2 separate regions of the Homo sapiens genome follow, and region 1 is linked to region 2. Evidence: fine-mapped expression QTL. A gene starts in region 2. The other region holds a variant in brackets. All regions are shown on one strand. Distances are from middle to middle. Region 1 overlaps ZNF213 (zinc finger protein 213). Region 2 holds the start of ZNF205 (zinc finger protein 205).

What was found. PIP is the estimated chance that this variant, and not a neighbour inherited with it, causes the effect. A credible set is the group of variants that fine-mapping cannot tell apart.
Region 1: its variant is the best candidate, but not a certain one, in a credible set for the expression of ZNF205 in skeletal muscle (GTEx, PIP 0.69).

Annotation. Positions count from the first base shown.
Region 1 is chr16:3,140,671-3,146,032 of GRCh38, forward strand. It overlaps ZNF213 (zinc finger protein 213), which reads left to right. Exons shown (of 6, transcript NM_004220.3): 6 at 19-2,134. The coding sequence ends at 677. It also overlaps the pseudogene CASP16P. Among named protein-coding and RNA genes, the nearest start is that of TRR-CCG1-3, 7.3 kb to the right of the region's middle. The variant C/T (reference allele first, on the strand shown) is at 2,758.
Region 2 is chr16:3,109,960-3,115,321 of GRCh38, forward strand. It overlaps ZNF205 (zinc finger protein 205), which reads left to right and starts at 2,627. Exons shown (of 7, transcript NM_001042428.2): 1 at 2,627-2,723; 2 at 3,458-3,528. The coding sequence starts at 3,472. ZNF205-AS1 (ZNF205 antisense RNA 1) reads right to left here. Exons shown (of 3, transcript NR_024167.1): 1 at 5,009-5,362; 2 at 4,836-4,923; 3 at 501-995. RefSeq lists an enhancer at 3,562-4,150.

The DNA.
Region 1 (5,362 bases), 31 kb after region 2:
GCCTCCTTCCCCTTGCAGGTTTTGGGCTCAAAGGCCAAAGTGAGAAGTCCCTGCTGCAGGAGATGGTGCCGGTGGTGCCAGGCCAGACAGGCAGCGACGTGACTGTGTCCTGGAGCCCCGAGGAGGCTGAGGCCTGGGAGAGCGAGAACCGGCCGAGGGCGGCCCTGGGCCCAGTGGTGGGCGCGCGACGGGGGCGGCCACCCACTCGCCGGCGCCAGTTCCGGGACCTGGCAGCCGAGAAGCCGCACAGCTGCGGGCAGTGTGGAAAGCGCTTCCGCTGGGGCTCGGACCTGGCGCGGCACCAGCGCACGCACACGGGCGAGAAGCCACACAAGTGCCCTGAGTGCGACAAGAGCTTCCGCAGCTCCTCGGACCTGGTGCGCCACCAAGGCGTGCACACGGGCGAGAAGCCCTTCTCCTGTTCCGAGTGCGGCAAGAGCTTCAGCCGCAGCGCCTACCTGGCCGACCACCAGCGCATACACACGGGCGAGAAGCCTTTCGGCTGCAGCGACTGCGGCAAGAGCTTCTCGCTGCGCTCCTACCTGCTGGACCATCGGCGTGTGCACACCGGTGAGCGGCCCTTCGGCTGCGGAGAGTGCGACAAGAGCTTCAAGCAGCGCGCGCACCTCATCGCGCATCAGAGCCTGCACGCCAAGATGGCCCAGCCCGTGGGGTGAGCAGCTGGCTTGGCCGGAAACCCGGGGGAGGCCCAGCCACGGCACATCCTGCTTTGTTCACCACTGGGACTCTCCTTCCATCTGTGGCCACCTCCCGGGCTGTCCGAGGGACCCCAGGGTACCTCACACTCGGAGCTCGCCTGCCCTGCTTGGCTCTGAGGACCTGCCCAGCGCTCAAAGGGAACGGAAGCCTTCCCCTCCCGCCCCCGATCTTGTCCTCTTTCCCCCTTCTGCGCCTAGCGTTCCTCTTCCCCTCTAGTTTCCTGGAGCCCCAACACATTCCTGGCAGGGACAGCAGGGTGGCAAGGACTCAGGTCTAGGTCCCTTCCCAGAAGCCCCCGAGCCTCATTTGACTGTGTGGCTCTTTGGCCCCCACCCTGTGGGGTGGGTCCATGGGTCAGGCCTCTGCCCTACCAACCTGTGCCTTTCAGTGGGCGTGGAGGACTGGCCTTGGCCCCCCAGGGGGCTGCTGGACTTTGGGAGAGACAGCCCACACCTGTGGGACCGCGGGTCTTAGTCACGGCGGCAGGGGCTTTCTGGCCCCCTCCCACTCCCGTTTCCAGGCCATGACCACTCTGCCCTGTCCTGGCCATACGGACTCGGCCTGCCTTTGCCCTCGGCCTACTTGCCCTAGCATGAGGCTCTGAGAGCCACCTGCCCACCAATCTGGTGAGGATAATGGTGGCTCCAGCGACAGGAGGCCAACCCTGGAGACCAAGAACAGGGCGCCTGGCTGCCATCTTTTCCTCCAGAGGTGGGGCTGCACCAGACTCAGCACTAGCACTCCATCAGCACTAGCACCTCACTCCATCAGCACTAGCACCTCACTCCATCGGCCCCGGCACCCTGCTCCATCGGCACTGGCGCCCTGCTCCATCGGCACTAATGCTCCACTCGGCGCCCCACTCCATCGGCCCCGCTCCATCGGCACTAATGCCCCACTCGGCGCCCCACTCCATCAGCACTAATGCTCCACTCCATTGGCACTAACGCCCCAACTCCAGCGGCACTAATGACCCGCTCCTTTGACATTGGTGCCCCACTCCATCAGCACTAACGCCCTGCTCCATCGGCACTGGTGTCCCACTCCATTGTCACTAACGTCCGGCTCCATCGGCACTACCACCCCGCTCCATCATCACTATGTCCAGCTCCGTCGGCACTACCACCCTGCTCCATCATCACTACGTCCAGCTCCAACGGCACTGGTGCCCCATTCCATCGGCACTAACGCCCCGCTCCACCGGCACCAGTGCCTCGCTCCATTGGCACCAACGCCCAGCTCCACCGGTACTGGCTCCCTGCTCCATCGGCACTAACGCCCTGCTTCATTGGCACTTTGCTGCTGCCTCCTGAGCACTGCCTTCCATGAACAGGGACAGACCAGAGGCCCTGCAAGGACTCCCCCTCAGACCTCCAAAGGGCAACAGAAGAGTATTAATAAACGTGAAAACTTACCTCCAGGCTGTTCTGTTCTTTCGGTAGCTGGAGGGTGGGGATACCTGGAATATATGCCCCTTGCCCTGGCCTTGTGTCCTGGTGGCACATGCTGCTGCACCGTGACCAGGCGGAGCTGCGTCCTTGGCGTCCAGGTCGGCTGGGCCCCAATGGGCAGCCGTGTCCCCTGGGACTCTTGTCCCCCTGTGTCAGCTAGTGCCTGCCCTGCTCTGGGAGCACCGTCGGTGCTCCAGCAGAACGGGGAGCTGAGCAGGACTCAGGGTCTTCACCAGGCCACTCCTCTCCCACAACTGTGAAAGGAAGAAGGGCCCATAGACGCTGCTTGGTCAGTGGTGGGACCCTCTTGCTGCGTGTTGGGGATCTGGAACTCAAGGCTGCCCCAGGCTGAGTCCCTTGGAGGAGGGGCTGACAGCGGGCTTGCCCTTCCCACCAGCCCCTGACATCCAACTTCTCCCTACCAGGAGCCCCAGGCCGGGACCCACCAAGGGCTGGTGGGTGCGTGGTCAAAACTAGTGATCATCCAGGCACGACCCCTCCTTCCACCCATGCTGGTTCCTTCTCTTTCACCTGCTAGTGGCCTCAGGGCCCCTGGCTGAGGGGAGGCGGGGGCCGGTGGACAAGA[C/T]GCTCTGGTCCCTTGGTAACAGGTGTGCATGTGCCAGCCCTCTCTGCCCCTAGGCCTTTCTTAGCCAACCTTCCATGCACACATCATCCTGCGGTCACTGTCATGGTCTCCGTTTCCCGTAAGAAGCAAGCAAGGTCTCGCTGTGGACAAGGCTGATTCCAGTTGGTGATTTTTACCTCTGGGGGCCTGGTGCTGTGTGCATGCGTGTGGCGGGTGGCCGGGATGGTACAAGGACTTCTTGGTGGCGGTGGCTGGCTCCAAATGGAGACACTCGGGTGTAACGAGATCAGATAAGCACGTAGGCCAGGAGCTAAGAATAGGATTGAGCACAGGTTCCTGGCTCGGGTAGGGGCATGTCAGTGCCAGCAAAGAAGTCACCAGCAGGAGCCAGAGAATGAAGCCCAGGCTGGGAGAGCGGGGCCAGGACCCAGGGTTCCAGGGATGGGGCAGAGTCCAGCTCAGCTCATAAGCAGAGCTGATAGTACTCGTTAGGGTAGAGGGCAAGGGTTAGGACCCAGGGCACTGAGAGCCCAGGGCCAGGAGGTGAGCTCCGAGCTTGGTGCTTGGAGGAAGCCCCGTCTCGCCCTATGGCCTTCCTGGTGGCTGGGACCCTGCGGCTGGCCACGCAGATGGCAGACACTCGAGACAGCCTGGGGAGAAAGGTAGCAGGAGGCACCGCCTAGCCCAGCTGCTCCTGCCTCCCTGCTGAGCCCCAGCCCAGCCCAGCCCAGCCCAGCTCTGGCCTTGCCTCCCCAGGGGAAGTATGACGTCCAGGGTCCAAGGGCAGCCCTGATGCTCAGCAGCCCTGGGGTGGCGGCCGCTGTAGTCACTGCCCTGGAGGACGTGTTCCAGGCCCTGGGCTTTGAGAGCTGCGAGAGGAGGGAGGTCCCGGTCCAGGTGAGCCTCTGCCTCTTACATCCACCCTCAGGCCCAGCACCGACCCCTTCCCCACTCTCCCCTGACCCAGAATCTCCTCCCCACCCAAAACCTCCCCGGACTCAGGTCGGTCTCACTCTTGCCCCTAGGGCTTCCTCGAGGAACTGGCTTGGTTCCAGGAGCAGCTGGATGCCCACGGGCGCCCTGTGGGGTGTGCCTTAGTGGCCTTGATGCCCCCAGAGGGCAGCTGAGGCAGCCACAGCAGCTGGTCCGGGAGCTGAGCGGCTGCCGGGCCCTGCGGGGCTGCCCCAAAGTCTTCCTGCTGCTCTCAAGTGGTCCTGGGTGTGAGTGAGCTGGGTCAGGATCCAGGAGCTGGGCAGGGACCCAGGGGCAGAGCCTCGGGCCTCACTGCAGGCCAACATGCTGCTTCTCTACCCAGCCTCCCTGGAGCCCGGAGCCTTCCTTGCTGGCCTGAGAGAGCTGTGTGGCCGCTCTCCTCACTGGTCCCTGGTGCAGCTGCTGACGAAGGTGGGGACGCTGGAGGGGGAGGCCCAGGGAAGCGGGGCTGGTCCTGCTGTCTCCGCTGGTTCTGCTGTGCCCCCCTAAGCCAGTTACAGTTAGATTCATTCACTTGTATCCTCCCTCCGATTCATTCTACAAACCTCCTTTATTTTCTACAGAAGTGGTCTCAGCCCCTCACCCTCAACTCGGGACCCCTGACAACCCACTCAGGATCCCCGACACTCGACTCCTCCCAGCTCCATGCCTTGGCCCAAGCAGTTCCCTCTGCCTGCTATGCCTTCCTGTTGTCCCGGGAGCCCTGCACAGTCCTCTGCAGGCTGCCAGCGATGCCCTTCCTTGCATCCACGCTTGCACTTCAGGCTGCCCCTTTCTACACCAAGCAGTGGCTGTCCGCCCTGTTAGATCGCAGGACCCTGGAGGCTGGGACTGGGAATGCTTCAAGTCTGGTCTCCAAGGCTGAAGGTCTCACTGTGTAGTTGGGTGGCCCCTGGGCAGCCCTGGGGATGAGGGGGCCCCAGCTCTCCTCCACAGATCGCCCAGCAGGGTAGTGCCCACCCCGTGAGTCTTCCCGACAGGCCCAGCCCCGCTCTAGGGAACATCCCCACCTCTCTGCGCACTGATCCCGGGGCAGGGGTTAATGGTGTGGCCACTGTCCACTCGAGGCCATCCATGCCCAGGGAAGTCCATAACCTTGAGCCTGAACTGGAGCCTGGGCCCTGCTTGAGGCCATCCTGCCTGTCTGTCCTTTGCTGGCCTCCTCCTGTCTGCATTCTGGCAGGTGACCCTGAAGAGACTATAGAAGCCACAAGCCTGGCTGAGTCTTTTCTCGGCCCCATCCCCAGCTCTTCCGCAGGGTGGCTGAAGAGTCCGCAGGGGGCACCTGCTGCCCCGTCCTTCGGAGCTCCTTGAGGGGGGCACTGTGCCTGGGAGGCGTGGAGCCCTGGAGGCCTGAGGTGAGGGGGGCAGGGCAGGGATCCAATCACATGGCCACAGTTTCCAGTGGGACAGAAGCTTAGGGGGGGCCCCGGCCGGGGAGGCCAGGAGCTGGAGTCCTCTCAGGCCACTTTAGATGTGTCTTAACCCTCTCTGCAGCCGGCCCCCGGTCCCAGCACACAGTATGACCTGTCCAAGGCCAGGGCTGCCCTCCTCCTGGCTGTGATCCAAGGCCGGCCTGGGGCCCAGCATGACGTGGAGGCGCTGGGGGGCC
Region 2 (5,362 bases):
AAGCCGGGTGTGGTGGCTCGCACCTGTGGTCCCAGCTACTGAGCAGGCTGAGGCGGGAGACTTGCTTGAAGCCAGGAGTCCGAGACCAGCCTGGGTGATATAGCGAGACCACATCTCTAAAAAATCAAAAACAAAAACAGAACACCTGGCCAGGCACAGTGGCTCAGCCTATAATCCCAGCACTTTGGGAGGCAGAGGTGGGTGGATTGCTTGAACCCAGGAGTTCGAGACCAGCCTGGCCAACATGATGAAACCCTGTCTCTACTAAACATACAAAAATTAGCTGGCCGCGGTGGCACACTCCTGTAATCCCAGCTACCTGGGAGGCTGAGACAGAAGAATCGTTTGAACCCAGGAGGTGGGGGTTGGAATGAGCCGAAATGGTGCCATTGCACTTCAGCCTGGATGACAGAGCGAGACTCTGTCTCAGAAAAACAAAAACAAAACAAAACAACAACAAAATCCCAAAACCAGAACACCTGGAAAACACCAGACACAAATCCCAGGAGTAATTTTTCTTTCATCAAATTGACAATAGCATCAATCAGAATCCCAGGACTCCTAAAACATGTTTAACTCCAAAAGCAGAGTTGCAAACTCAAATGCTACAGGGGCCAAGCAGGCACTGTGGCCACCTAGAAAGTGGACCCTGAAGGTGGGGAAGGTGGGTCCAGCATCGGTAAATGTTCTAATTTTTTTTAAAGAATCAATTTTATAGGCTGGGCGCGGTGGCTCACGCCTGTAATCCCAGCATTTTAGGAGGCTGAGGTGGGCGGATCACCTGAGGTCAGGAGTTCCAGACCAGCCTGACCGACATGGAGAAACCCCATCTCTACTAAAAACACAAAATTAGCCAGGTGTGGTGGCACATGCCTGTAATCCCAGGTAATCAGGAGGCTGAGGCAGGAGAATCGCTTGAACCCAGGAGGCGGAGGTTGGGGTGAGCTGAGATTGCGCCATTGCACTCCAGCATGGGAAGAAGAGCGAAACTCCGTCTAAAAAAATAAAAGAATCAGTTTTATGAGTGTCAATTTTTTAATGTTAGAAACTAAGTTAAAAAAAAAACAAAATTAGCTGGGCGCGGTGGCTCACGCCTGTAATCCCAGCACTTTGGGAGGCCAAGGCAGGTGGATCACTCAAGGTCAGGAGTTCGAGACCAGACTAGCCAACACGGTGAAACCCCGTCTCTACTGAAAATACAAAAATTAGCCCGGCATGGTGATGGGCACCTGTAATCTCAAATACTTGGGAAGCTGAGGCAGGAGAATCACTTGAACCAGGGAGGTGGAGGTTGCAGTGAGCCAAGACCACGCCATTGCACTCCAGTCTGGGCCACAGAGTGAGACTTCATTTCAAAAAAAAAAAAAAAAAAATTAAACCCTCTGGGCATGATGGCTCACACCTGTAATCCCAGCACTTTGGGAGGTGGGAGGATTGCTTGAGATCAGGAGTTCAAGACCATCCTGGGTAACAAAGCAAGACCCCCATCTCTACAAAAAAATTTAAAAAATTAGCCAGGCATGGTGGCATGCGCCTGTGGCCCCAGCTACTTGGGAGGTTGAGGTGAATTGCTTGAGTCCAGGAGGTTGAGGGTACAGTGAGCTATGATCGTGCCACTGCACTTCAGCCTGGGTAACAGAGCAAGACCCTGTCTCAAATAAGTAAATAAATAAACAAACAAACCCTTAAAAGCCCACACAACATAGCACGAGCTGGTACAGAGGCAGCTGGGCCCATCTTACTGTGTGAAGCTGTGCACCTCAGGGGATTCTGGTGAGCCAAAGACAGTGGCATGGGGACGTTTCCTAGGGAAACTTCCTGGAATCTGATTCCAGGACTGGGCCCCTGGCCCTTTTCCTGACACCCAGCCCCCATGCCTGCCCAAGAGAAATGGTTCCTTCCCCCAGAAAGTAAAGCACAGTCTCTGTCCTCTCTATTTGAGGCCTTACTTCTCAGGGTCTAAAGGGAAATGGTGCCTGAGAGGCAGAATCTGCAGCTGCCAGGCGTGTTTGAGAACTTAGAACCCCATTTATAGCTGGATCACACCCTCTATCCCCAAGCTGAAATGGGCCTGGAAGAATCGGATTAACCAACTTCTTCCCAAGGTGTGGGGCATCCGGATTGGGGGGAGTTCCCAGCCTGTTTCCCAAGTTCACTCTTAGGGAGAGAGTTCTGTGCCAGTCTTGGGGGGACCCAGAGGGCCCTTGACTAGGAGTCCCTAAATGAATTCAGGGTCCCTCAGGAGACAATAACCTTCAGAAACCCCGAGTGCTAAAATAAATGGTCCTGCCCTCTCCACCCTGCAAAATGCCCTTCTTTCTACCTGTGAGGACAACTGCAGTGCTCGCTTTGAAATTTCAAATAACACAATCTTTCCACAAAATGCATCTTCCATTTTTCTGTTTTGGTGGCTCTGCCTTGCTGGCATCATGAACGCGTCCTGGGTAAAGCCATCCTCATGAGCTGGCATTGCGGCTCTGGGAGTCACCTCCCGGCCAAGAGCAGGTGCAACCCAGGCTCGAGACTCCACACCCGGAACCCTCAAAACCGGGAACGCTGTAGGGCTGCGGCTGCATGGGGAATGGGATCTGGGAGGGACTTCCTGTCTTCCCTACTCCCAGTCTCCACCCAACTCCCCCGCCCGCCCCGTGCAGGCTGTGGAGACTCCCTTCCCGGGGGAGGGGGCCCCCACTGCCGCAGGTGCCCCCTCTGCCTCCACCCCGGTGAGAAGGGGGTGCTGGGGAGGGCATCTGGATCCCGAGACCGGCGCAGATGATCAGCTTGCAGGAGGGGATGGGGTCAAAGGTGGAAGGCTTCAAGCTGGCAGGAGAGAAGGGGGCCAGGACCGGGTTTGGGAAGGAGAAGGACATTGTCTGCCAGGACCGAGAGCAGGATGGGCATCCCAGGCCTGGGGCAGGTGGTTGCAGCTGCAGGGGGGCTGCTGAGAGCGGGCAGGTTGATTTCTGAATTCCTGGTGGGCATGGGAGTCAGGTAGGGACACACGGTGTATGTCCTGGGGTCGGGGGACAGCAGGTCCTGGATTACCCTGGCCTTGACGGGCGGGGCCCCACCAGCACCTGTTCTGCAGGATCTCTGCAGAACTTTCTGCTCCTGATGACAGGAAATAGCGATTCCAATTTAGCCTCGGCTTTCCCTGAGCCGGTTACACTGAGATGCGAGGCTCTTGCTTCAGCAATAAAGGGGACAATACAAAATAGCATTCTTTCAAAAATAGGACCCAGAAAACATCACAGAGAGTGGGACCATCGGATAGGATCTGGGAGACTTTCTTTCCGATTGGGACCAGGGAGCGCTGGTACTCGTGGGGATTTTCAGGGCTCTTTGGGGGTGTCCAGGAAGCGAGGGCTGGTTTCTGTCTGCTCTTCTAGGCTCCTGGCCAGAAGCTGGAGGGGGCTTGGCCAAAAAGAGGGAGAAACAACTCAGCTGTTCTTTCTAGCTCTGAAATAGAAAATGTCTGCAGACGGCGGAGGCATCCAGGACACCCAGGACAAGGAGACACCCCCGGAGGTACAGATGGGGCTGGCTGAGGGAGGTGTGCGGTAGAAGAGGCTGGTGCGGAGGAGATTTTCAAGGCACAGAGTCTGGACCCCTGGAAGAGTTAGACTCACTGGGGTGGGGAGATCAAAGAGAAGGTGGCATGCTGGGTAGTACCCTCTGTCTGGAATTTACAGCATAACAGTTTTGCTTTGCTGGTGAATTCTCTAGCCAGTGGCCACAGGAGATGGAAGAGGTCTGGGTGGAGGTCCTATCAGTGAGGTTTTCTTTCTGAGCAGCGCTCAGAGCACACAGGGAAACCTGTTCTCCTTCCCCGTGCTTCTCCACCTGGAACCACAGCTTCTCATCTCTGTGGGTCTGAGCTCCCGGTCCTTTCTCCTTCCTGTACCTGCTACCCGTGTGTGTGTGCGTGCGTGGTTGAGTGTGTGTGTGTAATTACTATTTGTGGGGGACCTGGGTCTCCGGGCTTGGAGTTGGAGGAGTATGAGTCAGCGACAGGCCAGGGGCCAGTCCCTGGCCTCTGGGAACCAGATGTGTCATCTGTAAAATGCAGACCACATGCCTGCCATTTCCACCTGTCTCGCAGGGTCACTGGGAGGCTCTAAGGATAATAGGCATGAGACGCCATCATCTATGGTTTTCATGCCATAGAAGCACAAAGAATTGTTAGCATGGTTCAGTTTCCCATCCACTTCCCGTGTGCCTTGAACACCTTGGGCATGTCAGTAGAGCCCCACATGTTGGCATTCTCTGCTGGCACTGGCTTCTGTCTGGTGCGCACGGCGGGGGGGATTAATGACCAGCGCCACCCTGTGTTTATCCAGGACTTTCCTGAGCTGGCAGCTCCTTCTCCATCATTATCTGCGTGAACCTCATGACCATTCTGTGCAGGGGCAGAGCAGCTGCGTCCTGAAGGCTGCCTGATTGGGGAGGGGTGTCGCTGGGTCTGGCACCCAGGCACTCTGATTCCTGGCCTGAGGTTCTTTCCCTTCAAGACCCAAACACAGACAGGGCGTGGAGGAAGGAGTGTGAGACCCCAGCAGAAGTCCGGCCAGTTCCTGTGCTGTGGATGAGGCCCCACCAGGGCCCTCCCTGACTTTCCCAAAGCTTTTGAGCTATGTGGTCACGGGGCATTGTCTCATCCCCAGCCATGGTGTGTTAGTCTCCCGTGGCTGCTGTAACAAGTTTCCACTCTCTGGGGGGCTGAAAACAACCAGAATTGGCTCTCTCACAGTCCTGGAGGCCTGCAGTCCAAAATCTAGGTGTCAGCAGGGTCACACTCCTTTTGAAAGCTCTAGACTAAGAGGACCCTCCCTTACCTCTTCCAACTCCTTGGGGGCTCCTGGTGTCCTTGGTGTGGGCATCCCTCCAGTCTCTGCTTCCTTCTCTGTGTCTCTGTGTCCTCTCCTATTCTTATAAGGACATAAGTCATTGTTAGATTTTAGGCTCACTCTAAATTCACGATGATTTAATCTCAAGATCTTTAACTTACCTGTATAAAGACCCTTTTCCCCAATAAGGTCCCATTCTGAGGTCCAGGGAGGACACGGATTCTTAGAGGACACTATTCAAGCCACTACACTTGGTTTCTTCATACACTAATAGACAGCAGTCTACACTGCTGAGGTCAGTGTGAGGCTGGAGCTGAGAAGGGGTAGCTGCCCTTGGGCACCACGCCCACCGGCACTGTGGAGGCGGCTTGGTGAATATTCCTCCTCTTGCCGCCCGTCCTTGCTGGGGTGAGCTGGATGAATGCAGCAAGGACAGTCCTTCAAGCTGCGTCTTGCATGTTGGTTTCCGACGCTGCCGGAGCGCACTGCCATGTGGCCCTGGGTGTCTCTCCCAC